Linked DNA regions of Homo sapiens. The protein of the gene in region 5 interacts with the protein of the main gene of each other region in a pairwise test. Each region holds a gene or a part of one and is shown on either strand. Other genes may lie near its edges.

Region 1 (6,380 bases), on a different chromosome or scaffold from region 5:
GTTTCACTTTGCAAAAGTACCAAGAATATTGATTTTGGGATTATAAATAAATGTTAGCAAGCAGGTAAATTTGCTATTATAGAATTTGTGAATAATGAGAATCAACTCTACCTGTTTTCAAATGTGTAGAGTTGGTATAAAAATGTATATTGTCTGGCTGGGCTCATGCCTGTAATCCCAGCACTTTGGAAGGCCCAGGCAGGAGTATCCCTTGAGGCCTAGGAGTTTGAGACCAGCCTGGGCAACACAGTGAGACTCCATCTCTACAAAAAATTTTAACAATAGCCAGGCAGGTGATATGTGCCTGTAGTCCCAGCTAATGGGGAGGCTGAGTTGGGTGGATCACTTGGGCCCAGGAGATTTAGGATGTAGTGAGCTGTGTTTGTGCCACTGGACTCCAGCCTGGGTGAGAGAGCAAGACTGTGTTAAAAAAAAAAAGTATACGGTCCATTTCTATAAAGAACTGTGGATAAAATGGGTGTAGGAGTGTGAAAGGAAATTTGGGACAGAAAGCTTTTCAGGTTGGAAACAAAATGAAGACAAAACTAAAGAACATGCTAGAATATTGACAAGATAAAAGTACTACGGAACAGAGCTAAGATTATTGTCATTATCAAAAAAATTATCCATCAAAGCAGTTAGGCATTCTCAATTACTTCTCTTAATTCTTAATTTAGTCATTACTAAATGGCAATTAACTGTTAGAGACTATATAATACTATTTCCAATTTTCTGACATACTCACATAACCAAAACATTCACACCAAAAGAATCAAGAGATCTTAGTATATAAAATTATCTCAATGTAATGATATGTACACAGAATAAAGAAATAATGTTTTATTTATTTATTTATTTTTAGATAGAGTCTCACTCTATCACCCAGGGTGGAGTGCAGTGGTATGATCTTGGCTCACTGCAATCTCTGCCTCCCGGGCTCAAGCAATTCTCCTGCCTCACCCTCCCAAGTAGCTGGGACTACAGGCATGTGCCACCACGCCTGGCTAATTTTTTTGTATTTTTGTAGAGATGGGGTTTCACCATATTGGCCAGGCTGGTCTCGAACTCCTGACCTCAGGTGACCCACTGAGCTCGGCCTCCCAAAGTGCTGGGATTACAGGCGTCAGCCACTGCGCCCAGCCAAGAAATAATGTTTTATAAAAACATTAAACAATATAAAAATATCAGACAAACTTGTACCACTCAAGTGGAGGCACTTTACACAAGCAAAACAAAACCTGAAAATTATTCTGAAATAAATTCGCTGGGCTTGGTGGTGCACGCCTGTAATCCCAGCTACTTGAGAGGCTGAGGCAGGAGAATTGCTTGAACCCGGGAGGCGGAGGTTGCAGTGAGCCAAAATCGTGCCACTGCACTTTTGGAGTGTTTTATAAACAGAAACAGGCTTTTGGATATACAAACTTAAGAAAGTGGGACTAACATTTTTCTTTCCTGTTAAGTTCACGGAAAAAGTTCATAGAAAAAGGACAAACTTTTTTAGAGCACCAAGATAAATGCCATTATTAAAATAATCTTTTTGGGCCAGGTGTGGTGGCTCACACCTATAATCTCAGCCCTTTGGGAGGCCAAGGCAGGAGGACTGCTTGAGCCCAGAAGTTCAAGACTATCCTGGGCAACATAGCGAGACCTCATCTCTACAAATAATAAAAAATTAGCCAGGCATAATGGCACACGCCTGTGATCTGAGCTACCTGGGAGGCTGAAGTGGGAGAATTGCTTGAGCCCAGAAGGTCAAGGCTGCAGTGAGCCATGATCGCACCACTGCACTCCAGGCTGGGCAACAGAGAGACTGTCTCAAAAATAATAATAATAATATTGTATGTATATAAATACATGAATAAGTAGAAGTATATGCTTAACTTTACTCTAAAACTACCGAGCATCTACTTCATGTTACCTTCTTTAAATTTGTTTACTATCCAGTCTAGCTGATCCAGTATACTGCGGAAAGTACCCATATGATCGAGGACTTCTTCTGTTATAGAATTCAGGACCTATATCATGAATGTGGAAGAGGTACCACATTAATTACAATTTATTGTCATATACAACTAGAAAATCAAACCTTTTTTTATAAATTAAAAATGAATTTGGATTTCCCAAAAGTTTAAAAAATAACTTTTAAAAATTCTACTGGTACTTGAGTATATCTAATTCATTGTTTTTTGCCTAAGTTGTGGCTAAAAGAAAACAGAAAAGAATAGCAAAGATGTACAGGTAATAGGTAATATAAGAGGGCAGCAAAAACAAATGAAAAAGCTCCCAAGAACATGAGAAACATTAGAAAACTACAGTTCTATCAAAGGAAACAGGACACAAACACTACAGACACTTTAAAAAAGGAATACTATATGGCTCAATATCCAGCACCCAAAAGATTTCATGTTCAAATGATGAAGAGATATTAAGCATTTGAAATAAAAATGATCTATGATAAATGTATTGTTAAACTACAGTCTTCACATCACATCCTGTTGCATTTTAAAGCATTTTCACAGCATGTAGTTTTTGCCTAATAAAGCATTTTCATAGTTTATAACAAAACTGAAGACCCCATAATTCCCTCCTTCAGAAGTACCACTGATACTCAGTATAGTAAACAAAGCTAACATTTTCCTAAGTTTTAATACATGTCAGTTACAATGTAGGACATTCGAAGATGGTTTCAAAGCTAGATTCTTGAGTCCAAACACATGGTATTAAGCACTATACAATCCTACTACCGTGAAGGCTAAAACAAAAATTCTTTAATACTCCATCCTCATTTATGTGGGGGCTTGAATTGGCAGAGGATATAATGTTTTTCCCTTTAACATTTTTGAAACTTACTGATTTCACACTGATTCCAGGAAAGAAGCCATTGATGACAACGTGAATGGAATCTTGCAGCATAGTGGTTCGAAACCTTTCTAGTAAATCTCTCTTAGAACCCAAACCATAAAGCACAATGTTGAACCCAAGGCTGTTAGGAAAGACAGTATTCATGAAATTAAACTTCAATACCTCTTATTGCCAATTTTATTATCAACCAGTTTCCTTAAATTCAGTTTATAAAAAATACAGGAAAGGGGTAGGCGCACTGGCTCAAGCCTGTAATCCCCGAATTTTGGGAAGGCAAACGCAAAAAAGTTTTTCATGTATGTATATATATGTATCTTTTTTTTTTTGAGACAGAGTCACTCTGTCACCCAGACTGGAGTCCAGTGGCACTCTTGGCTCACTGCAACCTCAGCCTCCCAGGTTCAAGCAACTCTTCAGCGTCAGTCTCCCAAGAAGCTGGGGCTACAGCTGTGCACCACCATACCTGGCTAATTTTTATATTTTTACTAGAGATGAGCTTTTGCCATGTTGCCCAGGCTGGTCTTGAACAACTGGGCTCAAGTAATCCACCCACCTTGGCCCCCAAAATTGCTGGGACTACAGGTGTGAGCCACCATGTCTAGCCAAAAATATTTTTATTTAAAAAAAAAATTAGGTCAGGTGCGGTGGCTCACGCCTGTAATCCCAGCACTTTGGGAGGCCGAGGTGGGCGGATCACGAGGTCAGGAGATCGAGACCACAGTGAAACCCCATCTCTACTAAAAATACAAAAAAAAAAAAAATTAGCTGGGTGCAGTGGCGGGTGCCTGTAGTCCCAGCTACTTGGGAGGCTGAGGCAGGAGAATGGCGTGAACACGGAAGGCGGAGCTTGCAGTGAGCCGAGATCCCGCCACTGCACTCCAACCAGGGCAACAGAGCAAGACAGTGTCTGTAAAAAAAAATTAACTAATTAATAATAATTTTTTTTTTCGCTCTGTCGCCCAGGCTGGAGTGTAGTGGCACCATCATAGCTCACTGCAACCTCCGCCTCCCGGGTTCAAGCGATTCTCCTGCCTCAGCCTCCTGAGCAGCTGGATTACAGGCGCCCGCCACCATGCCCAGCTAATTTTTATATTTTTAGTAGAGACGGGGTTTCACCATGTTGGTCTTGAACTCTTGACCTCAGGTGATGTGCCTGCCTTAGCCTCTCAAAGTGCTGGGATTACAGGCATGAGCCACCGTGCAAGGCCAGGAATCAATGTTTAGTGATTCAGCCATCCCAGTTCTTCCTCTTCCTTCCTAAAAAAAAAAAGTATTCTTTTTAAAAATTATTATTGGCCGGGCATGATGGCTCACGCCTGTAATCCCAGCACTTTGGGAGGTCGAGGCAGGTGGATCACATGAGGCCAGGAATTCGAGACCAGCCTGGCCAACATGGTGAAATCCTGTCTCTACTAAAAATACAAAAATTGGCTGGGCATGGTGGCAGGTGCCTGTAATCCCAGCTACTTGGGAGGCTGAGGCAGGAGAATTGCTTGAACCTGGGAGGTGGAGGTTGCAGAGAGCTGAGATCACATCACTACATTCCAGCCTGGGCAACAGAGTAAGATTCCATCTTAAATAAATAAATAAATATTTATTCCAAACCCATACAAGGTAAAGGCACAATTTTATTATCTGTATACCAAGCTTCTAGTTCTAATTTGTTCAGTAGCTTCACTGTAGCTTCTATTACTTTTCAGATGACAGATGACTGGAGGCAAGGGAGACCATTGCCAATAAAAGCCCTAAAAAGGCCAGGCGCAGTGGCTCACGCCTGTAATCCCAGCACTTTGGGAGGCCGAGGCGGGCGGATCACGAGGTCAGGAGATCGAGACCATCTTGGCTAACACGGTGAAATCCTGTCTCTACTAAAAATACAAAAAAATTAGCTGGGCGTGGTGGCAGGCACCTGTAGTCCCAGCTACTCAGGAGGCTGAGGCAGGAGAATGGCGTGAACACGGGAGGCAGAGCTTGCAGTGAGCCGAGATTGCACCACTGCACTTCAGCCTGGGCAACAGAGCAAGACTCTGTCTCAAAAAAAAAAACAACAAAAAAAAAGTCCTAAAAACTTTTATAGGCTGAAGCAGAGTTGAAACTGATACAAATTGAAAAGAGGTCAAGTAACAAAGGCCTTGTTAAGTCATACTAAACCATTAATTCACTCATTCCAAGGAGAATGAGCATTTATTTATTTATTTTGAGATGGAGTCCTGCTCTGTCACCCAGGCTGGAGTGCAGTGGTGCGATTTTGGCTCACTGCCTCCCGCGTTCAAGCAATTCTCCTGCCTCACCCTCCCAAGTAGCTGGGATTACAGGCATGCACCACTAAGCCCGGCTAACTTTGTATTTTTAGTAGAGACAGGATTTCACTATGTTGGTCAGGCTGGTCTGGAACTCCTGACCTCAGGTGATCCACCCACCTTGGCCTCCCAAAGTGCTGGAATTACAGACGTGAGCCACCGTGCCCAGCCAAGAATGAGCATTTAAAAGTAACTAATGAGGGGTTAACAGAAAGGTTTTAAGTAGGAAAGTAACATGTTCTTTTCAGAAAGATCACATTGATTATATTTGGGGAATGGACAGGAAGGAACAAAACTGTGGAAGATTAACTTAGCTGTCATGGAGAAAAATGTTAAAATGTCAAGAACTTTATAGAAAGTCAAACCAGTAAGAGTTGGAGACTGATTAGATGTGGAGAGTGAGGAAAAGAATACTTAAGAATGACTCAGGGCTGGGCGCTGTGGCTCACACCTGTAATCCCAGCAGTTTTGGAAGCCAAGGCAGAGAATTGCTTGTGCCCAGGGGTTTGAGACCAGCCTAGGCAAGATGGTGAGACCTCATCTCTACACAATAAAAAATAAAAAAAATTAGCCCAGGCATGGTGGCACACATCTATGGACCCAGCTATTTGGGAAGCTGAGGTGGGAGGATTGCTTGAACCCAGGAGGTTGGGGCTCCTTGAGCTGTATTCACACCATTCTGGGTGACAGAGTGAGACTGTCTCTTAAAAAGAAAAGAAAAAAAAAAAAGAATGACTCAGTTTTCTGCCATAGGCAACTACACAAATGGAGTGACTAACATTCAGTCATTCACTCTGCTGGATAGCAGGGGCAGGTGGGAACAGTGGATTTCAGATGAGTTTAATTTTATGTATGTTGAATTATTTACAGGACACCCAAGTATAAACTTCTAATATACATTCAGATATCCAGGTCTGCTACTGAGAGTGAGGTATGGGTTGGAGGTTAACAGTTACATGAGTCATTCATATACAGAAAACAACTGAAGCCAGAAGGGTGAATGAGACCACCCAGAACACCAAGCACTAGAGGTCAAGCTAAAGTCCAACTCCGTGATTGTTTACAAAGGTCAAGCAGAAACAGTATTTATGTGATGCTCTCTGGCAATGCAGGATAACCTAGAAATGGAAGAACAGAAAAGAGGTAACCTCCAAAGGTAGAGATTACCAAGGTCAAAGCAGCAGAAATAAAGAGGCAAGGAATTCAGAGAGCTAGCAA
Region 2 (6,380 bases), on a different chromosome or scaffold from region 5:
AGAAGGGTGTGGTGACCTGCAGGGTCCCCGGGGTCTGTCCAGCCGGTCTCTATCTCATTTCCAGGTATTTCCTTCCCCTCCTATCTGCATCGGTCTGTCCATACCTTTCTTCTCCCGGTTTCTACATTGTCTGATTTTCCGCCTCTCCCCTGCAGGTAATTTGGGGCTTGTGCTGAGGGTACCTGCATCTCCCTCTTTGTTTGCCTCAGAGAGCTGTCTGAGTCTGTAAAGCCACATTTCAACATCTAAATATCATGAATCTGGATGGACGCAGTGGCTCACGCCTGTAATCCCAGCACTGTGGGAAGCCAAGGCAGGAGGAATGCTTGAGCCCAGGAGTTTGAGACCAGCTTAGGCAACACCACGAAACCCCGTCTCTACAAAAACATACAAACATTAGCCAGGTGTAGTGGCATGCACCAGTAGTCCCAGCTACCTGGGGGGCTGAGGTGGGAACATCGCTTGAGCCTGAGAGGTGGAGATTGCAGTGAGCCAAGATTGTGCCACTGCACTCCAGCCTAGGCAACAGAGTGAGACTGTCTCAAAAAAATAAATAGGCCGGGCGCGGTGGCTCATGCCTGTAATCCCAGCACTTTGGGAGGCCGAGGCGGGCAGATCACCTGAAGTCGGGAGTTCCAGACCAGCCTGACCAACATGGAGAAACCTCATCTCCACTAAAAATACAAAATTAGCCAGGTGTGGTGGCACATGCCTGTAATCCCAGCTACTCAGTAGGCTGAGGCAGGAGAATCTTGTAAACCCAGGAGGCAGAAGTTACGGTGAGCTGACATTGCACTATTGCACTCCAACCTGGGCAACAAGAGCGAAACTCCATCTCAAAATAAATAAATAAATAAATAAATAAATCGGCCAGGCACGGTGGCTCACGCCTGTAATCCCAGCACTTTGGGAGGCCGAGACAGGCAGATCACAAGGTCAGGAGTTCAGACCGCCCTGGCCAATGGTGAAACCCCGTCTCTACTAAAAATACAAAAATTAGCCAGGCGTGGTGGTAGGTGCCTGTAGTCCCAGCTACTTGGGAGGCTGAGGCAGGAGAATCACTTGAACCCAGGAGGCGGAGGTTGCAGTGAGCCAAGATCACACCACTGCACTCCAGCCCGGGCAACAGAGGGACACTCCATCTCAAAAAATTTAAATAAATAAATAAATAAATAAATAAATAAATAAATAAAATGAACCTGCCTTTGTATCTTTCTGTGTCCCTCTATGTTCCTGGATCACCCTGGCTCTAAGTCTCATTTCACTGTTCCCCAAGCTGGGGAGACAACGTTAGGTTAGTGGTTCTCACTTTGGTTGTATATAGCATTACCTGGGAGCTTCCAGAAATCCTGCAACTGGCTGGCTCACATCTTTTTTTTTTTTTTTTTTTTTTGGAGATGGAGCCTCGCTCTATTGCCTGGGCTGAAGTGCAGTGGCGCGATCTAGGCTCACTGCAAGCTCCGCCTCCTGCGTTCACGCCATTCTCCTGCCTCAGCCTCCTGAGTAGCTGGAACTACAGGCACTTGCCACCACGCCTGGCTAATTTTTTTTTTTTTTTTTTTTTTGTATTTTTAGTAGAGACGGGGTTTCACTTGATCTACAGATCAAGCCAGGATGGTCTTCATCTCCTGACCTTGTGATCCGCCTGCCTCAGCCCCCCAAAGTGCTGGGATCACAGGCGTGAGCCACCATGCCCAGCCTGGCACACGTCTTTAATCCCAGCACTTTGGGAGGCCAAGGTGGGAGAAATCGTTTGAGGCCAGGAGTTTGAGACCAGCCTGGGCAACATAGTGAGACCTCATCTCTATTTATCTTTTAATTAAGAAAAAGTCCTGAAACCACTTCAGAATCTCTAGGGTGAGGCCTGGGCATCAGTATCTTTTAAAATTCTCCAGGTCATTCTAATGTGTGTCACTGCCTTGGTGGGGAAATCAGTTTGGTGGGTCTTGACCAATTTTTAAATTCAAACAGAATAGCACAGAACGGCAAATACCAGAGTGCATCATATATAATAAGAATATTCTATTGGTTGGGCAGGCACAGTGGCTCACACCTATAATCCTAGCACTTTGGGAGGCAAGGGCAAGAGAGGATCACTTGGGCCCAGGAGTTCAAGACCAGCCTGGGCAACATAGACACCATCTCTACAAAATTAAAACATTATTTAAAAAAAAAAATTTTGTAAATAGGCCGGGCGCAGTGGCTCATGCCTATAATCCCAACACTTTGGGAGGCTGACAGACGGATCACCTGAGGTCAGGAGTTTGAGACCAGCCTGGCCAACATGTTGAAACCCTGTCTCTACTAAAAATACAAAGAAATTAGCTGGGCGTGGTGGCGGGCGCCTGTAATCCCAGCTACTAGGGAGGCTGAGGCAAGAGAATCGCTTGAACTTGAGAGGCGGAGATTTCAGTGAGCCGAGACCACACCATTGCACTCCAGCTTGGGCAACATAAGCGAAACTCCATCTCAAAAAATAATAATAATAATTTAAAAAGATATATTATATTGGTTGGCTGGGCTCGGTGGCTCATGCCTGTAATCTTAGCACTTTGGGAGGCTGAGGTGGAGGATTGCTTGAGGCCAGGAGTTTTTTTGTTTTGTTTTGGTTTTTTTGGTTTGTTTGTTTTTGTTTTTGTGAGACGGAGTCTAGCTCTGTCGCCCAGGCTGGAGTGCAGTGGTGCGATCTCGGCTCACTAAAACCTCTGATTCCAGGGATCAAGCTATTCCTCTGCCTCAGCCCCCTGAGTAGCTGGGATTACAGGAGCACACCACCACGCCTGGCTAACTTTTGTATTTTTAGTAGAGGTGGGGTTTTACCATGTTGGTCACCCTGGTCTCGAACTCCTGACCTCGTGATCTGCCCGCCTCAGCCTCCCAAAGTGGTGGGATTACAGGCGTGAGCCACTGCGCCCGGCAAGGCCAGGAGCTTAAGACCAACCCCGCTAACACAGTGAGACCATATCTAAAAAAAAAAAAAAAAAAAAAAACAAAAAAGAAAAGAAAAGAAAAAAGGAAAAGAGGCCAGGCATGGTGGCTCCCACCTGTAATTCCAGCACTTTGGGAGGCTGAGGTGGGTGGATCACTTGAGCTCAGGAGTTCGAGACCAGCCTGAGCAACATGGTGAAACCCCATCTCTTCAAAAAATACAAATATAAAAATTAGCTGGGCGTGGTGGTGCACACCAGTAGTCCCAGTTACTTGGGGGGCTGAGGTGGGAGAAACACTTGAGCCCAGGAGGTCAAGGCTGCAGTGAGCTGAGATGGTGCCACTGCACTCCAGCCTGGGTGACAAAGTGAGACCCTTCTCAAAAAAAAAAGGAAAAGGAAAAGAATATCATATTGGCCAAAAGAGACAGAAAACAAATTGGTGGTTGCTAGGGGTTGGGGGAAATGGAGAGTGACTGCTTAATAAATATGGGTACAAAGGTATAAGGTACAAAGCAGTATAAGCATGGCACCTCTGAGAGTAATGAAAACGTTCTGAGGCCGGGCGCAGTGGCTCACACCTGTAATCCCAGCACTTTGGGAGACCGAGGCGGGTGGATCACCTGAGGTCAGGAGTTCAAGCCAGCCTGGCCACGGTCAAATGCCGTTTCCACTAAAAATACGAAAATTAGCCGGGTGTGGTGGTGCATGCCTGTAATTCCAGCTACTCCAGAGGTTGAGGCAGGAGAATTGCTTGAACCCTGGAAGTGGAGCTTGCAATGAGCCAAGATCGCACCACTGCACTCCAGCCTGGGTAACAGAGCGAGACTCTGTCTCCAAAAAAAAGAAAAGAAAAAAAAAGAAAACATTCTGGAACAACACAGAAGTGGTGATTGCACAACCCTGTGAATGTACTGAATGCCACTGAATTGTACACTTTGAAAAGTCACGTAAATGTATGTTATGTGACTTTCATTTTAGTGCCAAGAAACGAAAGAATACTGGTGGTAGGAAAATGTGTGTTTGAGTTTTATATGTGGGTGGGATCTGCTACAGTCAGTCCTTGATTAACACATAAAATATATTTCCTCCTGTAGATTGCAGTCAGCAAAGTGTGAAAAAGCCTTGCCTTGCCTTGTTACATTTCACCTACTGAGGGCAAACTCTCTAGGACAGAGTCTCTGCTAAGCCCTGAGGTGAAGAAGACACACCCATTCATTTGAGCTCAGCCCAAAGATGGATAAGAAGAAAACTTTAAAAACAGCCCTCATCGATCAAGTCTTGACCATCAGGCCCCATTCTGAGCACTTTCGTGAATTAATGTATTTCTTCTTCTCAACATCTATAGAAGCAGGTGCTATTATTAGCCTCATTTTACAGATGAGCAAACTTAGGCTCAGGCACAGCAGGTGCAAAGTCCTGGAAAGACAAGAGAGCACTGTCTGAAGACATCATCCTTGATTCCTCTCTCTCTTTCAGATTACACATCCATTCCATCAGGAAATCACGTTGGCTCTGCCTTCCAAGTAGATCCAAGGTCTAACCACTTGTTCCCCACCTGTCCCACCCTGGAGCTGCCAAGGGCTGGGAGGGGATTTAGCATGAAGTATAGAAGGGAGAACTGGCAAGACATACACATCCCCCAGAGAAGGAGGGATGGGACCAAATCCTGCAGGGTTTTGAAAGCCTGTCAAGAAGTTTGGGGCCGGGTGCAGTGGCTCATGCCTATAATTCCAGCACTTTGGATGCTGAGGTGGGTGGATCACTTGAGGCCAGGAGTTTGTGAGCAGCTGGCCAACGTGGTGAAACCCTGTCTCTACTAAAAATATAAAAACTTTGCCAGGCGTTGGTGGCCCATGCCCATAGTCCCAGCTACTCAGGAGGCTGGGGCACCAGAATTGCTTGAACCTGGAAGCGGAGGTTGCGGTGAGCCGAAATCACGCCACTGCACTCCAGCCTGAGTGACAGAGACTCTATCTCAAAAAAAAACAAAAGTTTGGACCAAGCCTGGAGGAACAAGTAGTGCTGCCTGGAGGAAGGAGGTTGCCAGGGAAAAGAGGGTAGGAATGTTCCAAGCAGAGGCCCAGCATGAGCAAGGGCCCAGAGGAATGGGAAGAACTTCAGTGTGGCTGGAGTGGCCTGAGAGGTAGGGAGACCGACAAGTGGCTGAGGCCGGTAAGGCTGGGCTGGCAGGGGCCAGTCCCTGCAGAGGGTCAAACACCAGGCTGAGGAGTTCATTTGTGTCCTGGGGCCCTGAGATGCATGGATGGTTTTGAAAAAGGGAGCGACAGGAGCAGATATGTGTGTTAGAAAGACCCAGTGGCTGCATCAAAAGGAGACAGGATTGGCAGGGCACAGTGGCTCAGGCCTGTAATCCCAGCACTTTGGGAGGCCAAGGCGGGTGAATCACCTGAAGTCAGGAGTTCAAGACCAGCCTCACGAGCATGGCAAAACCCTGTCTGTATTAAAAATACAAAAATTGGCCGGGCGCAATGTCTCACGCCTGTCATCCCAGCACTTTGGGAGGCCGAGGCAGGTGGATCACGAGGTCAGGAGATCGAGACCATCCTGGCTAACATGGTGAAACCCCATCTCTACTAAAAATACAGAAAATTAGCCAGACGTGGTGGCACGCACCTGTAGTCCCAGCTACTCGGGAGGCTGAGGCAGAAGAATCACCTGAACCCAGGAGGCGGAGGTTGCAGTGAGCCGAGACTGCACCACTGCACTCCAGCCTGGGCAACAAAGCGAGACTCCATCTCCAAAAAAAAAAAAAAAATACAAAAATTAGCTGGTTGTGGCAGTACATGCCTGTAATCCCAGCTACTTGGGAGGCTGAGGCAGGAGACTCACTTGAACCCGGGAGGCGGAGGTCGCAGTGAGCCAAGATGGCGCCACTGCACTCTAGCCTGGGTGACAGAGTGAGCAGAGTGAGATTCTCTCTAAAATTAAAAAAAAAAAAAAAAAAAAAGGAAAGGCTCATGCCTGTAATCCCAGCACTTTGGGAGGCCGAGGCAGGAGGATCACGAGGTCAGGAGATCGAGACCATCCTGGCTAACACCGTGAAACCCCATCTCTACTAAAAAAAATACAAAAAATTAGCCGGGCATGGTGACGGGTGCCTGTAGTCCCAGCTACTCAGGAGGCTGAGGCAGGAGAATGGCATGAACCCAGGAGGCGGAGCTTGCAGTAAGCCAAGATCGCGCCACTGCACTCCAGCCTGGGTGACAGAGCGAGACTCTGTCTCAAAATAAAAAGACAGGAACCAAAAAAAAAAAAAAGAGAGAGGCCAAGACTGGAAGACAGAGAGTCTAGGGAGGACATGAACCCTATTCCCTTCTCAGCCACTCCTCTTCCCGCCCCCTTGTCCTGTCCTCCACCATCTTCCCTGGACTTTGCAGCAGCTTCCTCTCTGGTGTCCTGGTGACCTCCTCTGTCCCTCACAGCCCCTTC
Region 3 (6,156 bases), on a different chromosome or scaffold from region 5:
CAGAATTATTATATATCCCTCACATATAGTGGTCCTTAGTGCTTGCTGAATGAGTGATGTGATGGGTAGCACCATTTTGGCCCATAGTCTTTTTCCTATTTTTCCATAGCTGAACGATTTCCATTCTGCCAACAGGGTTGCAGTTAAGTTTTTTTTGTGTGTGTGACAGTCTCACTCTGTCATCCAGGATGGAGTGCAGTGGCACAATGATGGCTCACTGCAGCCTTGACTTTCTGGGCTCAAGCGATCCTCCCACCTCAGCCTCCTGGGTAGCTGGGACTACAGACATGCGCCACTGTGCCCGGCTAATTTGTTTTTATTGTTTTTGTAGAGACAAGCGTTTCGCCACGTTGCCCAGGCTGGTCTTGAACTCCTGAGTTCAAGCAATCTGCCCACCTCAGCCTCCCAAAGTGCTAGGACTACAGGCATGAGCTAATGCCTGGCGAACTTTTACTTTTTTTTGAGATGGAATCTCGCTCTGTCACCCAGGCTGGAGTGCAGTGGTGTGATGGTGGCTCACTGCAACCTCCGCCTCCTGGATTCATGCGATTCTCTTGCCTTAGCCTCCGGAGTGGCCGGGATTACAGTTGCGTGCCACCATGCCCGGCTAATTTTTGTATTTTTAGTAGAAACGGGGTTTTCACCATGTTTGCCAGGCTGGTCTCGAACTCCTGACCTCAGGTGATCCACCTGCCTCGGCCTCCCAAAGTGCTGAGATTACAGGCGTGAGCCACCATGCCCGGCTGCCAAGTTTTACTTTTTAAACCCACTTCTCACTATCAGGAAACCCTTGTGAGGTGAAATAGGTACAATGCCAGAGCCTGAGCTCATGAAAATCAAATACTTACTTGATTGAGGATACAGACATGTGTTTCAGCTGGTTCTTGAGATCCTGAAAGTTCAACCCTTCAGGTCTTGGACAAGCCTTAATCAAATTCAACACCTGAAGATTCAAATCAGAAAGATTTTAGCAATTATTTTGGATCAGCCTCCCCTTTGCAAACCTGAGTCCCTTTATAGAAAAGAAATGAACCAGGTACTTAAACAGTCGTAGCTCATTAAGGAAGTAACAAAATTTAAGACTATCTGTGTTTTGTATTTCTGAAGCCACTCTGGTGGAGGTTACCTGGTTTTGGGCCACAGTGAGGCCATTTGCTGGCATGAAGCTATTCCCACCAAAGTTCCCTGCTTCACTCATTCCTGGATTGCTGATAGGTGCTCTCCCTGCTGAGGGCTGAATTAAGAAATAAGTTAGCAATATTAGAAAATCCATCAAGTTAAACAGTCTTTACTACTTAAAATAGCTCGTTAAGCAGCTTACAAAAAACAATTTATAAACAGTTTCCCAGTTTATAACACTGCTTACATTGGAGTGGACAGCTATTATCTAATGAGTATTTCACAGGAAGATAAAGTAACTCCCCGAAGCACATAAATATCAAAAAGAGAAAGATACTCTTGGCTCCTTTTGTTTGTGATGTCAGACGAACCAGAGAAGAGTAGCAGCAAGAAGAAAATTACCCAGAGTCTGCTATTTTGGTATCCATGGAGCCCAATCATTCAAGCATTCACTGAGTGTCAATAGGCATGAAGCACCACAGGCAGAGAAAAGGAGACACAGTCCCTATCGTCCTCTCTTTCTTTCTTTTTTTTTAACCACCAAATTCTTAAAATGCTCTGCAATCACTATTTTCATTTCCTTTCTCCCCAGTCACTCCTCAGCCCACCATATTTGGGTTGTCCCCCAGTACACCTCTGAAACTGTTTTCACCAAAGTCACCAAAGACTTTTCAACCAATTATCCAAAAGTCTCTTTCAGTCCTCCTAATACTTGACCTCTCGGAAGCAGACACTGCTGACCACACTCCTCTTGAAATGTATTCCTCCCTGGGCTTCTTGACACCACATTCTTCTGGTTCTCCATCTGCCTCTCAAACTGAACCTTCTCAGTATCCCTCATTAGCCTCTTCTATCTGTCTCCCAAAAAGCTGACAGTGTCCCCAGGATCTCATCCCAGACCGCCTCCTAGGCCACAAATCCTCATTGCCAGCCGGACTGCTAACCGGATGCCAACATGGTGAAACCCCGCCTGTATTAAAAATACAAAAATTAGCTGGGTATGGTGGTGCGTACCTGTAATCCCAGATACTGGCGAGGCTGAGGCAGGAGAATTGCTTGAACCCGAGAGGCGGAGGCTGCAGTGAGCCGAGATCACGCCATTGCACTCCAGCCTGAGTGACAGAGTGAGACACTGTCTCGAAAAAAAGGGCCAAGCGTGGTGGCTCATGCCTGTAATCCCAGCACTTTGAAAGGAGGCTGAGACGGGCAGATCACGAGGTCAGGAGATCGAGATCATCCTGGCTAACACGGTGAAACCCCTTCTCTACTAAAAATACAAAAAATTAGCCGGGTGTGGTGGCAGCCGGGTGTGGTGGTGGGCGCCTGTGGTCCCAGCTACTCGGGAGGCTGAGGCAGGAGAATGGCGTGAACCCGGGAGGCGGAGCTTGCAGTGAGCCGAGATCGCACCACTGCACTCCAGCCTGGGCGAAAGAGCGAGACTCTGTCTCAAAAAAAACAAAAACAAAAACAAAAAACCCAAATAAACAAAATTTTAAAAATTTGAGTAAAGGTAATCCTTACCATGGCCTCCAAAGCCCCATATAATCTGGGCCCTGCCTCCTTGCCTACAACCCTCTCCCTCTCCCCTGTCATTCACTTCACTCCAGACACTGGCCTTGCTGGTTTCAGAGATGTCATGCTTACTCCACACTCCTGGCTCTTGCACATCCTAGTCCCTCTGGTTTAGAATGTTCCTCATCTAAAATTGTACCATTCTTGTTCCCTCCATCAGCCTCTTCTCCTGTTTTATTTACTTCAGAGCACCTATATAACTACCTAAAATTATACATATATTTTTGTTTATTACTTGTTTCTCCCAAGAATGTAAGTATATAGTGTTCACTGCTATACTCGAATGCCGACTAGAATGATTGGGACTATCAAATCAAAGTAGGCGCAATAAATATTTTTCTTTTTCTTTATTTTTTTTTGAGACAAGGTTGCTCTGTTGCCCAGGCTGCAGTGAGTGGCACGATCACAGCTCAATGCAGCCTTGACCTCCTGGGCTTAAGTGATCTCCCAACCTCAGCCTTCCAAGTAGCCCATCTAATTCTTTAATTTTTTTTGTAGAGACAGGGTCTCCCTATGTTGCCCAGCGTGGTGTCTTGAACTGGGCTCAAGTGATGCCCCCACACCAGCCTCCCAAAGTGCTGAGATTTCAGGCCATGAACCACCACACCTTGCCCTGAGGGCTTTCTAATACTACAGTCAACTCTAGTTTTGCATGGTCCTAGATGGACTTGTCAAAGTGAATTCACACAATGGAAAATACTAGGGAGAAATTTCAATATGAACCAAGAAATATAATTTCAGGGAAAAAATAATAATACATAATTTTTCCTACTTAGCCAGTAAGTTGGAAGGAAGACAGCAAAATGCTGTCCTGAAGGGGACTACTCTCTGAGTATGCACTGACAATCCTGGAGCTAAGAGCTATATAAGAGCTAAGAGCCTATAATTACATGTCTACACCTGAGGGTTGTCACAGGCCTCAGCTGTCCAGGCCAGTGGAGTCAGAGGAACTCCTAATTCTGAGAGAAACATGAGTGTTTCATCTGGAATAAAATACAATGACAAAGCTAATGGAGAAAGTGTTCTGAGGACTTAGTGATGTCTTTCTCTGGCTCGGCCTTCAAAATATCAAGGAAATCAAAGCTGGAACACAAAAGTAGCCTGTGTTCTTCCAGGGAAGAGAAAAAGCTAGGAAAGCGAGACTACTCACCTGGCTGTTGGCTTTGCTTAGTACCATGTGTGCATTGATCACTTCCAGAATATGTGTGGTGAACTCATTCATATCCTCCAGGGGCATGATCTTAAAGGCTACCAGGCTCTTTTTGTTCTATTAAAATGAAGGAAAAAAATGTGAATAAAATATGAACATACATTAATTTCAGGTCAACACTGTGGCTCTTTCCTTGGTTATAATATTAATATTTCACCAATATGAGAAAAATGTTATATACTCTCAGAGGTATTCCAAATATGGTCAAACATGAGGAGAAAAAAAACTAAAACTAATAGCTAAGGGACATTAATAATTTTCCCAAGATTGCATAACCAAGCAAAATCTAGACTCCTGACTCCGAATCTAGTGTTCTCCTTTCTCCAACTAATGAACGCCACAGATAGCAATTGTAGAAGGAGATTCTGTTCTTTCTTTACCATTCTGTTAATTTCATGTTAAGGTTAAAAAAAAAAAAAAGAAAAGTTATTTCCTTTTGAAGAGAGTAAGAAATAACTTCCCATTAAACAGGGAGACTTAAGTATTTTAACTATCCAAAAGCCATGACATGAATCTAGAAACTGCTTCATGCAAAAACACTTTAACTGTTATTTTATTCTGACTTTACCTGAAAAGATCTCAGGTGGCCTGCCACTTTCACATATGTTTCTGGAGGAACCACAGTGTTTTCACTGCTGGTGTCCTAACATAAAATACAAACATGTCATTAAAGTTTTAGTGATGCTGGTAAAAGCCTCTTTAACGTTTCTATATTATGTATAGAAAGAGAAAGTTACGAAGTAGAAGAGTTAAAGGATCCTAAAATGGCATTAAGTAGTTTGCCCTGCCTTTTACAACTTATTTTGTAAAACCAGGAATTAGAATAAAAATATCTCTAAAGGTAATTATCAGTTCCAAAGTTCTGTAGCACATCATAAAAAAGCAAACAATTGTGACACTCTCGTTCAAGCTCTTAGGCACACAATTTTCTTTTTTCTTTTTTTGAGAGGGAGTCTCGCTCTGTCACCCAGGCTGGAGTGCAGTGGCACGATCTTGGCTCGCTGCAACCTCCGCCTCCCAAGGGAGGGTTTGAGTAATTCTCCTGCCTCAACTTCCCCAGTAGCTGGGATTACAGGCGCCCGCCACCACGCCCGGCAGGCACACAATTTTCTGGTGGATATACTTATTGGCAAAGCAATTCTACTTTTAGGAATTTAAGGAAGTAATTAAGAACATGCATTAAGATTTAGATTTATCATAGTATAGAATATTAAAAATTTTAAAACAACCTAAATATCCAACATAAAGTACACATTTCTATATAATAGGATACTCCACACTGTTGCAAATGATAACATAGAATTCTATTTACTGCCTGGAAAAACAAGTCATGATACATGGAAAAAAGCTGATTTCCCATTTGGGACAATACACACTAAACTGTTTATAATGGTTGACTAAGATAATTAAAAACGATTTTAATACTTATCAGTTTCCTAGAATATGCACACATTATTTATAAGAAAAATACATTAGCTGATTTTTTTTTTTTTTTTTGAGACGAAGTGTCTTGCTCTGTCACCCAGACTGGAGTGGAGCGGCATGATCTCGGCTCATTGCAACCTCTGCCTCACAAGTTTAAGTGATTCTCCTGCCTCAGCCTCCCAAATAGCTGGGACTATAGGCGCCTGCCACCACACCTGGTTAATTTTTTTGTATTTTTTTTGTATCTTTAGTAGAGACGGGGTTTCCCCATGTTGGCCAGGATGGTCTCGATCTCCTGACCTCATGATCCACCCGTCGCGGCCTCCCAAAGTGCTGGGATTACAGGCTTGAGCCATCGTGTCCGGCCCATTAGCTGATTTTTAAAGTTCTTTTCTGACTACATAAAATGTATTACTTTAAAAAAAATTGAAAATATATCGGGGTATATGGACTCACACCTGTTATCCTAGCACTTTAGGAGGACAAGGCAGGAGGATCCTTCGAGCTCAGGAGTTTGAAACCAGCCTGGGCAACATAGTGAGACCTCGTCTCTAAAAACAAACAAAAAACTAGAAAATATATGCTTAAAAATAAAAACTCTGGCCAGGTGCAGTGACTCATGCCTGTAATCCTAGCATTTTGGGAGGCCAAGGCGAGCAAGTCACTTGAGGTTAGGAGTTCGAGACCAGCCTGGCCAACGTGGTGAAACCCTGCCTCTGTTAATAATACAAAAAAAAGGGTGGGCACAGTGGCTCACGCCTGTAATCCCAGCTCTTTGGGAGGCTGAGGCGGGCGGATCACGAGGTCAGGAGTTCGAGACCAGCCTGGCT
Region 4 (6,243 bases), on a different chromosome or scaffold from region 5:
ATTGGGTCAGGGCAGGGAGTGCTACACTGTGGTCCAGGACAGGTGCCTCGGTGATGGTGATCTCAGGGGAGCTGGGTCTAGAGGTTTCTGAGGCTTGAGTTTCAGGCGGCCTGTTCTCCACCTCTGGGCGGACGCCCGGGCTGTGCAGGTTCATGTGTAGCTTCCTCATGTGGTGCACCACAGCTGCTGCGTTGAAGGCTTGCTAAGGAGACACAAGAGCAGCCTCTGGCCTTCTGCAACCTCAGAGGGCCTTGGAGCTTAAACTTTCCCTTTGCCTTGTGGCCTCTTGAAACCTGGGTGCCCACTTCTCATTTCAGAGAGGGTACACGGAGCTCCAATGCCTTCTGGGACATCCCAAGGAAAGCCCTTATGTCAGCCCCTGCCAGCCCAGCCTCCAGGGGCCCAGAACAGCTTTCCCACCCCCTGGAGAGGACAGCTTACCCTCCACTTGCTCTTAGCAAAGTTCTTCTGGATCTGGAGGCTGACTGATGGGTAGATGTCCCGGTGGAGGGCTGTGTTTCCGTCAATCCTGTGGATGTAAGAGGGGACACCTGGCTACTGGGTGGCTATTTACACTCATCCAGGGAGTGGGCAGGGTGCCTGCAGGTCTAGGTGAGAGCTGGGTAGAGTGTGCAGAGGAAAGACAGCCCACAGCAGGAAAGGGCTGCAAGCAGGTCTCCTCTGTGCCCCTGGGCAAGTAAGAGTCGGCTTTAGCTTTGGCAAAATCAAAAACTTTTAGAGCAAGGTCAACAAGCTATAGCCTATAGGCCAAATCGACCTATTGCCTGTTTTTGTAAATAAGGTTTTATGGGGACACAGTGGTGCCCATTAATTCAGGTATTGTCTGTGGCTCCTTTTGCACTGTGACAGCAGGGTTGAGTAGTTGCCATAAAGACAGTATGGCCAGGAAAGCCTAAAATATTTACTATCTGATGCTTTATAGAAAAAGTTTATTGGACCCAGCATCACAGGGCACTGGGGTAGTCACCATCCTTTAGCTCAAAACCTTGCCTAGAACCCACCTCCTCCTGGAAGCCTTCCTCAGTAAGGCCGTCTGGTACAGGCTGCCCCTTTCCTATCCCCTTAGCCTCTTATTCACTGGTCTCTAAGTGTTCCTCAGACACTTGCTGTGTGCATAGTACTGTGCCAACTACTAATAGACCTCGAGAAGTAAGAGACATGGGCCCTGACCCCTAGGAGCCTACAGTCTAGATGTCGGGTGTTGTTCATGCTATGGACTGCAGTAATACATGGTAAGCCGTGTGATTAATAAAGAGAACTGGGGAGATTGGGTTGGGCTGCAGGGGTCAGGGGCTTCAGGGAAGGGCAGAGACTGATCTGGATCCTGAAAGATGCTACATACAGGGCAAGAGGCAGGACATTGTAGGTAGTGGGAATGATCTGATCCAAGGTGTAGTTAAGACAGAGCTTGGTATGTGGGGTGAGACAGATATAGCTCCCAGGCCTATCTGGACAGAGGAGGTATGCTGGCAATCCTGGGAAAAGAGGCTGGAGATAAAGGGTCAGGCCATATTAGGGAAACTGGAAAGACAAAGGAATCCAGGCTTGCTGGGGTATGAAGTGGGGAGCTATTGTAAATTGAGTTGGGAAGTAACATGAAAAAATATTTTAAGATTTTCTTTTTCCTATTTTGCCAATCGGTTGCTTTGCAGTTGTTCTTAAATCACTTCACCTGGAACAGTTATTGATCCCTGAGTAAAACAAAGCTCTAAAGGACAGGACAGAGTTGCCCATTCCTGGCACTTCTTGAATAACTAGTACTGAACATTGCACCCTATCCCAGTGCTGAATGACAGCGCTCGGCTGCACCTGCCTCCTGCACTTGACCAGACAACCCAGCTGCTACCCTTGCATTAGAACCTGCTCCACTGTATAATGTTTGAATCTCTACCTGGGCCTGATGAACAATGGCATGGTCCTTGCTTGTCACATCATTAAATGGATCAGGACAAGCAGATTCCAGGGAAATGCAATATGAATGAGTCAGCATGGTTTTGGGAACTACAGGGCTGGGGTCTAGAGTCCACTCCATGTCTCACTCACCAGGGATGACTCAAGGCCTTCTCACAGGTGTACCGCTCGTTCGGATCCTTCTCAAGCAAGTGGCAAATAAAGTCCTTGGCTAAGGGGAGTAATCAAAGACACGACGACTAAGGACCAGATTTCATGACTGATGGAAATTCACTTCCGGGCTGGTGGGTGGCAGTGAATGCATCTTTAGCTGATCTTCCAAAGAGGCAATTTTAAGAGTCTTAGAAGAGGAAAAAAAATCCAAACCACCTAACAACAACCCACCATAAACCACCAAAGAAGGGAAGCTCCAAGCCGCCTCACCCACACAGCACTGCAGAAGCGTCACTAGTCACAAGGCCCCCATGTGCCTGCACATCACATGTGCATGTGTTTGCACTGAAACAGGGGCCAGCGCTGGCACATGGGCACGCATGTGAGTGCTGGATTGTTCCAGCTCTGATTTCCACTTAACAGGTCCAACAATCACGTAATGATCATCTTCTCTCACACATAGACATTGCATGCTCTTTCTTGATATCTAACCCCTTAGTTTTGCTGCTCTTGTCTGGAACTCTCCCCTCACCACCTGGCTCTGCCCTCCTGGCCCATCTTCTAAACTGCCCCCCCATCTCCTTTTCAGGCATACTGTGGTTCTGCCTCCAGAAAAACAAAAGCATAGCTCTTAGATGTAAATAATTTATCGGGTCTTTGAAGCAGACGAAGATTTCTCCACTTTCCTTGGCAGCCTGTTCTGTAAGATCCCCAGGGACTTTGAAGAGCCGGGACTGTCATCCTTTGTTAAGCTCATTTCTCTTGGCAGCCTCTACCTTGAGCCTGTTATCTCTCCTTCATGCCTACTGGCCTTACCTGACTCAGAAATGTCATCCCAGAATGGAGACTCAAACTCATAGTAGCCCTCCTTGATCTTCTCGAAAAGCTTAGACTCCGTTTCTTCATAGAATGGGGGGTATCCACAGAGCCTGCAGCAGGACAGGAAGGAGGCATACTACTGAACAAACCTGTCCTCCCTGAGCCAGCCTCTCTGCTCCCCCAAGCTCCCACTGTATACACAGGTGGGCACTGAAGGTCCCAGAACAGTGGTGTGACCAGGACGCAGATCTGCCTCAAATTCCAGAATGGTACAGGTCCCGTAAAGTGTTTATGCAAGTGCCAAGCCTTGGCACAGTCATCCCTAGAAGGTCCCTGTGTACATTATGCCCTCCAACCCTTGCCACCTCTCCTTATACTTTCCCTGACTTATGAATGCTATATAAAATATGTTTAAGAAAGTTGGTAGACTGTCTACTTGAATGTAAGCTTGATGAAGGATTTATTTAGGCTGTGTTGTTCACTGCGGGATTCTTTAGAACCTAGCACAGGGATAGATGCAGAGTAGATAGGCAGTGAATATTGGTTGGGTAAATAAATGAGAGTACTTATTCAACATAAATGGAGGAGATAATTGAAACCAGGTTATTTTCCTAAGAGCAAAGTTTGCTATAGGTGAGGAGGGATGGTGGGGAAGAGGTGATGGGCAGGTTAGGAAAGGGAGAGCTTGGGAATGTGTGGAGAGGAGCGAAAAGGAAAGGCCCTGACCAGCTTTATCCAGGCCACAGTTTTGCCTTGGGAAAGCTGAGATGTAGGAACAGAGGGTCCACCTGGCTTCCAAGCCTGGCTTGGCCTCTCTCTTTTTCACTGTTCATTCCACTGAGTGGGATGCAACACATTTATAGGCAGTAAAAGGGGCAGGGGTGCAAGAGGAGGGAGTGCCAGGTGGCTGTGCAGTGGATTCACGCTGAGCTCTGTTTTAAAACTTGGTGGAGGTGAAGAGAGAGGAAGCTTTTAAGCTGTGTGTACATGTATGTGTGTGTGTGTGTGTGTGTGTGTACCCGTGTGCCCCTGTGCCTGTGTCTGTTTGTGCACATGCACGTGCTTGGAGGAGGAGCTGAGACAGGGGAGGGAACGAGAAGGGGTAAGCAGGCTCCGAGACTTCTCATCAGCTGAACCCAGGCCAGCGTCTACTCACAATATGTAGGTGATGACGCCGATGGACCAGCAATCCACAGCCTTGCTGTAGGGTTTCTGGGCCAGCACTTCTGGAGCTGCAGCAGACCAAGGGCAGAGTCAGGGCTGGTGGCAAGAGGAGAGGGCTTTGGGGTGGGAGCTGAAGGCCAGGCTTAGAGAAGAGGTCTGGGGAAGACTGTGGGATGGTGGGGTTTCTAGGAGACTGAAAACTCCCTAAGGGTAGGGGCTGTGTCTCTTCTGGGAAGACTAAATCTTCCTGAAAAGAGAGACTGTGACTTCTGCATTAGTTTGTGAGTTTCCCCATGACAGGGTCGATGACTCACCTGTTGGACTGGGGATCTCCAGGGCTATGTCTCCCTGATTACACTGAGTATTCTCTGAAGGCAGGGCCTGTCTCCCCACTCAGATAGGGGATTCCCAGGGCAAGTGTGATCTCTCTCCCTTCAGACTGGGAGATCTTCAGTGTAGGACTGTCTCTCCTCCACTAGACTGGGAGCCTCTGGGAGGCAGAGACTGAGTCACCCCCATTAGATTAGGAGCTCCCAGAGCAAAGGCAGTATGTCTCCCATCAGACTGTGGGTACCTTCTGAGGGGAGGCATTTAGTCTGTCCCATCAGATAGAGAGCTTTCAGAGGGCATGAGCCATGACTTCCTCTGATTAGGAGCCCTGTGGGGTGTAGAGAGCTGCCTTCTGTATTTCTTGCAGCTACCAGAGCTTTGTACCTGGTGGGACTCAATACCTACTGAGGAGTGAATGACCTGCCTTTCTGGGAGGGTAGATTCCCTCTCTTGAGTCAGAGCTCTGCTTCCCATTACCCAACTGCAAACAGGTGACGACTGGTGAAGTGGGAAGGGACAGGAGCGGATGCTCTGAGTTTCAACTTTGTCTCCTGTAGATCCCAGGAATACTCTTCCAGGTGCCCTGCCTGCTCTCACTCTTTTTGGGGGCCCTGGAAACCTACAGGGATGTTCAAGCAGGAAGCTCCACCTTTGCCAATTTCCCAGAGTGCTTCCTTGGGTGGACATTTAGGAGCCCATTTCTGGGTTCCTCAGGCCCAAATTCAATATCCTGTGCTTCCAGGCTCCCAAGAACTGGGGGCTAATGTCTCCTTCAGAGTGGGAGAAAGGAGTAGGGTTGGTGCTCAACCCCTCAGCTCTCTGCTGATCTCTGGGTTTGTGATCTTGTCTGCCCCTGGTCCAGCTGGAAAGACAAAGGCTGGAAGTCTATCCGCAGAAATGAGAGCCAAAGCATAGGCAGGGACTCTGGAGGGCTCAGGGGTAGGCGGTCTTTAAAAATGTAGAATTTGGGAGCAGTAGAGATAGATCCTGAGACGGATGAATTGGCTGGCCCTAAACTTTATAAGTGGATGTCCTACCAGGATAGCCCCTGAAGTTGAACCCTATGTTCTCAGAATCACCCCTTTCTATGAATGATAGGCATGTGGTTGAATGTAGCCAACTGGTCAACCTTCCTCCTGCTCCCAGACTTACCCACGTAGCCTGGGGTCCCACAGGCAGTGGACATGATGCCATTCTGTTCCATCTTGGACAGACCAAAGTCAGTGATCATGATCTTAGAGTTCTCTTCAGGGGTAAGGTAAAGCAGGTTTTCGGGCTGTAGGAGAAAAAATATGTAGTGTAGGATATAACCACCTGAAGCAAGTATTTTCCTTCCCCTTGATACAAAATTTCACAGGAAGATGAGCCCTGGGCTCCTGACTTCAAGGCCAGCTCATCCTCCCCCATTCTTCCCTTCTTCCTCCTACCTGCACCCTCACACCTGCACCCCAGTAGTCTGCACCTTGCTTATGGCTCTGACTTTGCTCGGTCTTGTAAACATTAATATACTCACCCTTTCCTTCCCTCACTTCCAACTACCCTGTTTGTGTTTTGAGAGAACCAATCTTTGGTTAATGGTGTCTGATCTCTCCAGAGTCCAGTGCAAGGCCTAGTACAATGTAGGCCCTCAGTAAATATTTTGTTGCATTGGGTTTTGACTGTGGCTGGATGTAAGAAATGTGTGTATTATTTTGGTATTGAAATAGGGTAAGGCATAGTGAAAGTTTCAGGAAAAATTGAGGTGCAAATTAGTAACCATTGTTCACTCATCCAAGGTCTGTTTAAGGAATCTAAGGGCAGAAGGGGCCTTGGGAGTCACTAGTCCAACCCTCTTACTTTATGGAG
Region 5 (6,380 bases):
CTTCCCTTCATCCTCAGCCTGACATTTCCCGGTAATGTGCTTTTGGGAAGCCTTTTTGAGCCATATTTGAGATGTTCAAGACATTCTTCATTTGGGGAAGGGGCAATGCCCTTCAAACTGAGGCATGCTTCTCTCTTCTTTCTCACCTTTGTCACCCCTTTCACTAGGTTTGGGTGTCTCATAGGGAACCTCTTGGACCCACTGTTATATTTTCTTACCTCTTGCCCAGCTCTTTGTTCTATTTTTTGGAAGACTTTTTGTTTTTTGTTTTTTTTTTGTTTTTTCCCCAGACGGGGTCTCTCTCTGTTTCCCAGGCTGGCCTCAAACTTCGGGCTCACTCGATCTTCCCACTTCAGCCTCCCAAGTAGCTGAGACTAAGCACATGCCACTACACTCAGCTTGGTCTTTATCTTCTAATCTTTGGTTTGTGAGGGGTCCTTTTTGTTCTCTGAATTTTTTTTTATATAGCATTCTTTTAACTATCGATGAGCTGCATTTCATTGGTTCCCAAATGTCAGTATCCAATGGGATTTCCCGGGAAACATTCATGTTCTACAGATAAGTCTTGGAATTTTCCACTCTGACTAATAAACAAATATTTTTTAAGCACTTACTATGTGCCAGGTACCAGTTAGGCCCTGGGGTGCGGGTATGAGAGCAAAGTCCTGCCTTTGCAAAGCTTTCCATTGGGGGAGACAGATACTGATCATGTAAATGAGCACAATTAGGGAAAGCTTTCAGGTATCAAACATGAGTTAGCAGGGGATGGAGCCAAGAGGATTCCTGGGCAGAGCATCCATAGACACTGCAGCTCTGAGGTGGGAAGGAAAGTTTCAAGGAAGGCTTGGCCAGCAGTGCCAAAGGAACAGGCAAATGAGAACAGACCAGTGGGTTTGGCAATAAAGAGAAGGTAGGTTGTCTTGATGAGATACAGGAAAATAATCAGCGTTTCCTTTTACATACTTAACACATCAATTTGGAATTTGTGTTTGTAAATGTTTAACATAATATTCATGGATTATAATAGGCATAATTTCCCACCAACTTTTTATTTTGAAATTTTTTGAAATGTATACAGTGGTTGAAAGGATAGTACAGTGAATATCCATGTACCTTCAATCTAGAGTCAACAGTGGATCATGACTGTAGGTGGTCTCAGCTACTTGGGAGGCCAAGGCAGGAGGATTGATGAAGCCCAGGAATTTGAGAACAGCCTGGGCAACATGAAGAGAACCTGTCTCAAAAAAAACAAAAACAGTTTTTCACATTTGCCACATTTGCTTTCTTTCTGTGTATTCTTTTTTCTGTATTATTTGAGAATAGATTGCAGAAACTGATATTCTTTTTTATTTTTTATTTTGTTTTTTCTTGAGATGGAGTCTCACTCTGTCACTGAGGCTGGGGTGCAGTGGCACGATCTCGGCTCCCTTCAACCTCTGTCTTCTGGGTTCAAGCGATTCGCCTGCCTCAGCCTCCCAAGTAGCTAGGATTACAGGCATGCACTGCCACAGCCAGCCAGAAACCATGATATTCTACACATTCTTTCATAAGCAGCTCCTAAGAATAAGGACATTCTTCCCCATAAACACAATGCCATTGTCATACATAAGAAATTAATAATATCCTAATATCATGTAATATTCAGCCCATATTCAGGTCTCTTTAATTGTCCTCAAAATATATTTTGCAGCTATTTTTATTTCTGAACTATTCTCCAATCAAGATTAAGACATTTAGCTATTCCTCTTTACTGTCTTAACCTAGAACCATACCTTACCTCTTTTTTTTCTTTTGTTTTTAATGACATTGAAGGCCAGTTCTCTTTTCTAATATTTACTACTACTTGTTTCTTCATGGAGTACTTTAACTTGCTTCTCTATCCCTGCATTTTCTATGATCTGTAAATTAGGTCTAGAGCGTTGATTTTAATAACATTAAGCATTCTTGAGAAGAATACTTTTTATATAATTAAAACCTGTGCATGATTTATAACTAAGTATGTGTATATTAGAGGTATATATATATTTTTTTGAGACGGAGTCTCGCTCTGTCGCCCAGGCTGGAGTGCAGTGGTACGATCTCGGCTCACTGCAAGCTCCTGGGTTCATGCCATTCTCCTGCCTCAGACTCCCAAGTAGCTGGGACTACAGGTGCCTGCCACCACGCCCAGCTAATTTTTTATATTTTTAGTAGAGACGGGGTTTCACCGTGTTAGCCAGGATGGTCTCGATCTCCTGACCTCATGATCCTCCCACCTTGGCCTCCCAAAGTGCTGGGATTACAGGCGTGAGCCACCGTGCCCGGCTGCTTTTTAGAGGTATATTCTTAGAAATATTTTTACCAGCCTGGTGTGGTGGCTCAAGCCTGTAATCCCAACACTTTGGGAGGCCAAGGCGGGTGAATCACCTGAGGTCAGGAGTTTGAGACCAGCCTGACCAACATGGAGAAACCCTGTCTCTACTAAATACAAAAATTAGCCAGGAGCAATGGCAGATGCCGGTAATCCCAGCTACTCGAGAGGCTGAGGCAGGAGAATTGCTTGAACCTGGGAGGCGGAGGTTGTAGTGGGCCAAGATCACGCCACTGCACTCCAGCCTGGGCGACAGAGCAATACTCTTGTCTCAAAAAAAAAAAAAAAAAAAGAAATATTTATACCAGACTGGACAACATAGCAAGACACTGTCTCTACAGAAAAATAAAATAAAAATTAGCCAGGCATGGTAGCATGGTCACATAGGCCCGGCTACTTGGGAGGCTAGAGTGGGAGGATGCCTTGAGACCAGGAGGTTGGTTGAGGCTGCAGTGATCCATGATCACATCACTGCACTCCAGCCTGGGCAACAGAGCAGGACCTCATCTCTTAAAAAGAAAAGAATGAAATATTTTTATTAATAAGGGTGCACATTCAAAGAGGTTTAGAGACAATAGGTTATAAATAATTGTTTTAAGGAGTTCTGCTATAGGCCGGGCGTGGTGGCTCACGCCTGTAATCCCAGCACTTTGGGAGGCCGAGGTGGGTGGATCACGAGGTCAGGAGATTGAGACCATCCTGCTAACACGGTGAAACCCCATCTCTACTAAAAATACAAAAAATTTCCCGGGCATGGTGGCAGGAGCCTGTAGTCCCAGCTACTCAGAAGGCTGAGGCAGGAGGATGGTGTGAATCCAGGAAGCAGAGCCTGCAGTGAGCTGAGATCCACCACTGCACTCCAGCCTGGGCAACAGAGCAAGACTCCGTCTCAAAAAAAAAAAAAAAAAAAAAAGAGTTCTGCTGTAAAGAAAAGAGGAGACATGGGGTCGAGAATCATTTTTACTTGTCTTTTAAAGGTTGGATGTTAGAGCTGGACCCCAGCAAAGATGAGAGTCCGCTATAAAAATAACCATAATTATACTTAATCTACAGGTGCTATAATATCGTGGCTCAGGTCACGGGTTTCAAATTTTGTATCTGCTATAACAGCTTTGTGACTGTAGGCAAGTGACTTAACCTCTGTGTGCCATTGTAAAATAAGGAGAATAACTAGACTTAATTGTTTTGGTTCCTACTGATGTTTAACAAATTACTCCAGAACCTAGCAGCTTAAAACAACCTTTTCCTTATGCTCATGGATTCTGTAGGTTAGGAATTTGGGCAGAGCCCAGTGAGGATGACATCTTTTTGATCTGTGATATCTGGGCCCTCAGGTGGGGACTCAATGGCTAAGAACTGGAAGCATGGCTCAGACATCTGCTGGGAGGGCTCCAAACCAGGACTACTGAGCCAAGCACCTGCAGGGTCTCTCCATTGAATGTGACTTCCTTACAACATGACTGCTCAGGCTTCCAGCATGAATATTCCAGTCACCCGGGCAGCCACTGCATGGCTCTCCCGACCAGCCTTGGAGTACCTCAGCATCCAGTAGCCACAAGGGAGGGGACAGGACCCCACCATGCATTGTGGCAGGGTCAAAGAAATCTCAGGCTGTGGGAATTTTGTTACTTTATTGAGGCATAATGTCTACACAATTCACTAGGTGGTACAATTCAATGAGATTTAACAAATGTATAAAGATGCAACCACCATCCCACCATGATAGAGAACAATTCCATTACCCGCAAAAAGTTTCCTCACCAGGACCATGGCTTTTTTTTAATTAAAGTTTTTCTTTTGAGATAATTACAGATTCACATGTAGTTGTAAGAAGTAATATAGAGAGATCACTTATATACTTTGCCCAGCTTCCCCCAATGGTAAAATCCTGTAGTATAATATCACGGTCAGGATGGGAGGCTAAGGCAGGCGGATCACTTGAGCCCAGGAGTTGGAGACCAGCCTGGGCAACATGGCAAAACCCTGTCTCTACAAAAACTACAAAAATTAGCCAGGTGTGGTGGTGCACACCTATGGTCCCAGCTACTTGGGAGGCTGAGGTGGGAGAATCACCTGAGCCCAGTAAGTCGAGGCTGCAGTGAGCTGTGAGCACACAACTGCATTCCAGCCTGGGCAACTGAGACTATCTCTAAAGAAAAGAAAGTCTCCTTTCTAAATTTATAAATCATGTGATTTTTCAGTTGGCACTCTAAAGGTTAGAAATCACTGTGAAAGTTCTGCCAGAAACTGAATATGTCTATTCCATTTATGCATTCAGAAACTGCCAAAATAACCCATGGGTATTGCTTTAAAAAAAAAAAAAAAGATACAGAACATTTCCAGCACTGTAAGGATCCCTCTGTTGCCCTTTTATAGCCACACCCACTTGTCTGCTGCCTGGTAACCACTAGAGAGCTCCATTTCTGTAATTTCATTTCAACAATATTATGGAAATGGAAATGGAATTATACAGTATGTAGCCTTTTGGGATTGGCTTTTTTTCGCTCTGCATAATTCTTGGAGATTCATCCATGTTTGCTTGTATCAATGGCTCATTCCTTTCTCGTCCATCAGCATTGTGCAGTTTTCAGTGTATAAATTTTCTGTTTTTGTTAGATTTATACCTGCATAAAAACAAACAATATTTATTATTTCTGCGTGCTAGCCATAAATACGTGGACACCAAAATTTAAAATACAGTATCATTTGCAGTCAGTCAAAAAAATGCATAGTCTGCTGTTGTTGGGTAGAGTTTTTTAGAAATGTCACTTACATACTGAGAGTTGGTGGTGGTGTTGAGTTCTGTTTGCTTGCTGCTTTTCTGGCTAGTAATACTTTCAACTCTTCAGAAAGGGACATTGAAGACCCCAACTCTGATTATAGATTTGTTTGTTTCTCCTTCCAGTTCTATCACTTTTTACTTCACGTATTTATAGCTCTCTTGTGCGCACACATTTAGGATTGTGGTGTCCTTTTGGTGGATTGACCCTTTTATTCACTTAGTGTCCCACTCTGTCTCTGGTAATTTGCTTTGCTCTGAAGTGTGATTTATCTGATATTAATATTGCCACTCCTGCTCTCCTTTGATTAATGTTTGCACGATATATCTTTTCACATTCTTTAGTTTCATTCTGCCTATATTGTTACATTTGTAGTGAATTTTTTAAAACAGCATACAGTTGGCTCATATTTTTAAATCATGTTTTTTAAAGCCATTCTCTATCTCTTAATTGATAAACTTAGCTTACTTACATTTATTTTAGTTACTGACATGTTAGGGCTTAAGTCTGACATTTTATTTTCTGTTTCCTGGTCTCTGTTTTTTTTATTCTATTTTTTTCTTGTTCTTTGTTATTTGTATTTTTATTTTTTTGAGATGGAGTTTCGCTCTGTTGCCCAGGCTGGAATGCAGTGGCGCGATCTTGGCTCACTGCAACCTCTGCCTCCCAGGTTCAAGCAATTCTCCTGCCTCAGCCTCCTGAGTAGCTGGGACTACAGGCACGTGCCACCACGCCCAGCTAATTTTTTGTATTTTTAGTAGAGATGGGGTTTCACCTTGTTGGGCAGGCTGGCCTCAAACTCCTGACCTCAGGTGATCCGCCCACCTCAGCCTCCCAAAGTGCTGGGATTACAGCCACTGCGTCCAGCCTGTTTTCTTTCTTTTTCTTTCCTCTAGTGTTTGTGAGTCTATCTCCTTGTATAGATTTTTTAGTGGTTGTTTCAGGTTATTACATTACATATCCATAACTTATCACAGTCTACTGGTATCATCATTTTACCAGTTGAGTCACATGTAGAAACCTTATCTTCTTTTTTTTTTTTTTTTGAGGTGGAGTCTCACTCTGTCACCTAGGCTGGTGTGCAGTGGCACAATCTCAGCTTACTACAACCTCTACCTCTCGGGTTCAAGCAGTACTCCTGCCTCAGCCTCCCGAGTAGCTGGGACCCCAGGTGTGTGCCACCATGCCCGGCTAATTTTTGTATTTTTAGTAGAGATGGTTTTCACTCTGTTGGCCAGGTTCGTCTCAAA

The links.
Region 1: the proteins of CDC45 (region 5) and ORC2 interact in a two-hybrid assay, tested with the Homo sapiens proteins (one large-scale study listed by BioGRID).
Region 2: the proteins of CDC45 (region 5) and RAB4B interact in binary tests that used the Homo sapiens proteins (3 or more experiments, as listed by UniProt).
Region 3: the proteins of CDC45 (region 5) and RPA2 interact in binary tests that used the Homo sapiens proteins (3 or more experiments, as listed by UniProt).
Region 4: the proteins of CDC45 (region 5) and CAMK1G interact in a two-hybrid assay, tested with the Homo sapiens proteins (one large-scale study listed by BioGRID and IntAct).

What each region holds. Positions count from the first base shown.
Region 1 is NC_000002.12:200,923,918-200,930,297, forward strand, and holds part of ORC2 (origin recognition complex subunit 2), read right to left. Parts: intron 2,984-6,380; coding exon 2,851-2,983; intron 2,016-2,850; coding exon 1,919-2,015; intron 1-1,918. UniProt on the Homo sapiens protein: Component of the origin recognition complex (ORC) that binds origins of replication. DNA-binding is ATP-dependent. The specific DNA sequences that define origins of replication have not been identified yet.
Region 2 is NC_000019.10:40,790,183-40,796,562, reverse strand, and holds part of RAB4B (ras-related protein Rab-4B), read right to left. Parts: intron 1-6,380. UniProt on the Homo sapiens protein: The small GTPases Rab are key regulators of intracellular membrane trafficking, from the formation of transport vesicles to their fusion with membranes.
Region 3 is NC_000001.11:27,893,164-27,899,319, forward strand, and holds part of RPA2 (replication protein A 32 kDa subunit), read right to left. Parts: intron 4,545-6,156; coding exon 4,470-4,544; intron 3,959-4,469; coding exon 3,842-3,958; intron 1,235-3,841; coding exon 1,127-1,234; intron 944-1,126; coding exon 849-943; intron 1-848. UniProt on the Homo sapiens protein: As part of the heterotrimeric replication protein A complex (RPA/RP-A), binds and stabilizes single-stranded DNA intermediates that form during DNA replication or upon DNA stress.
Region 4 is NC_000001.11:209,605,751-209,611,993, reverse strand, and holds part of CAMK1G (calcium/calmodulin-dependent protein kinase type 1G), read right to left. Parts: intron 5,675-6,243; coding exon 5,551-5,674; intron 4,137-5,550; coding exon 4,061-4,136; intron 3,015-4,060; coding exon 2,902-3,014; intron 2,144-2,901; coding exon 2,065-2,143; intron 530-2,064; coding exon 442-529; intron 203-441; coding exon 1-202. UniProt on the Homo sapiens protein: Calcium/calmodulin-dependent protein kinase belonging to a proposed calcium-triggered signaling cascade. In vitro phosphorylates transcription factor CREB1.
Region 5 is NC_000022.11:19,484,670-19,491,049, forward strand, and holds part of CDC45 (cell division control protein 45 homolog), read left to right. Parts: intron 1-6,380. UniProt on the Homo sapiens protein: Required for initiation of chromosomal DNA replication. Core component of CDC45-MCM-GINS (CMG) helicase, the molecular machine that unwinds template DNA during replication, and around which the replisome is built.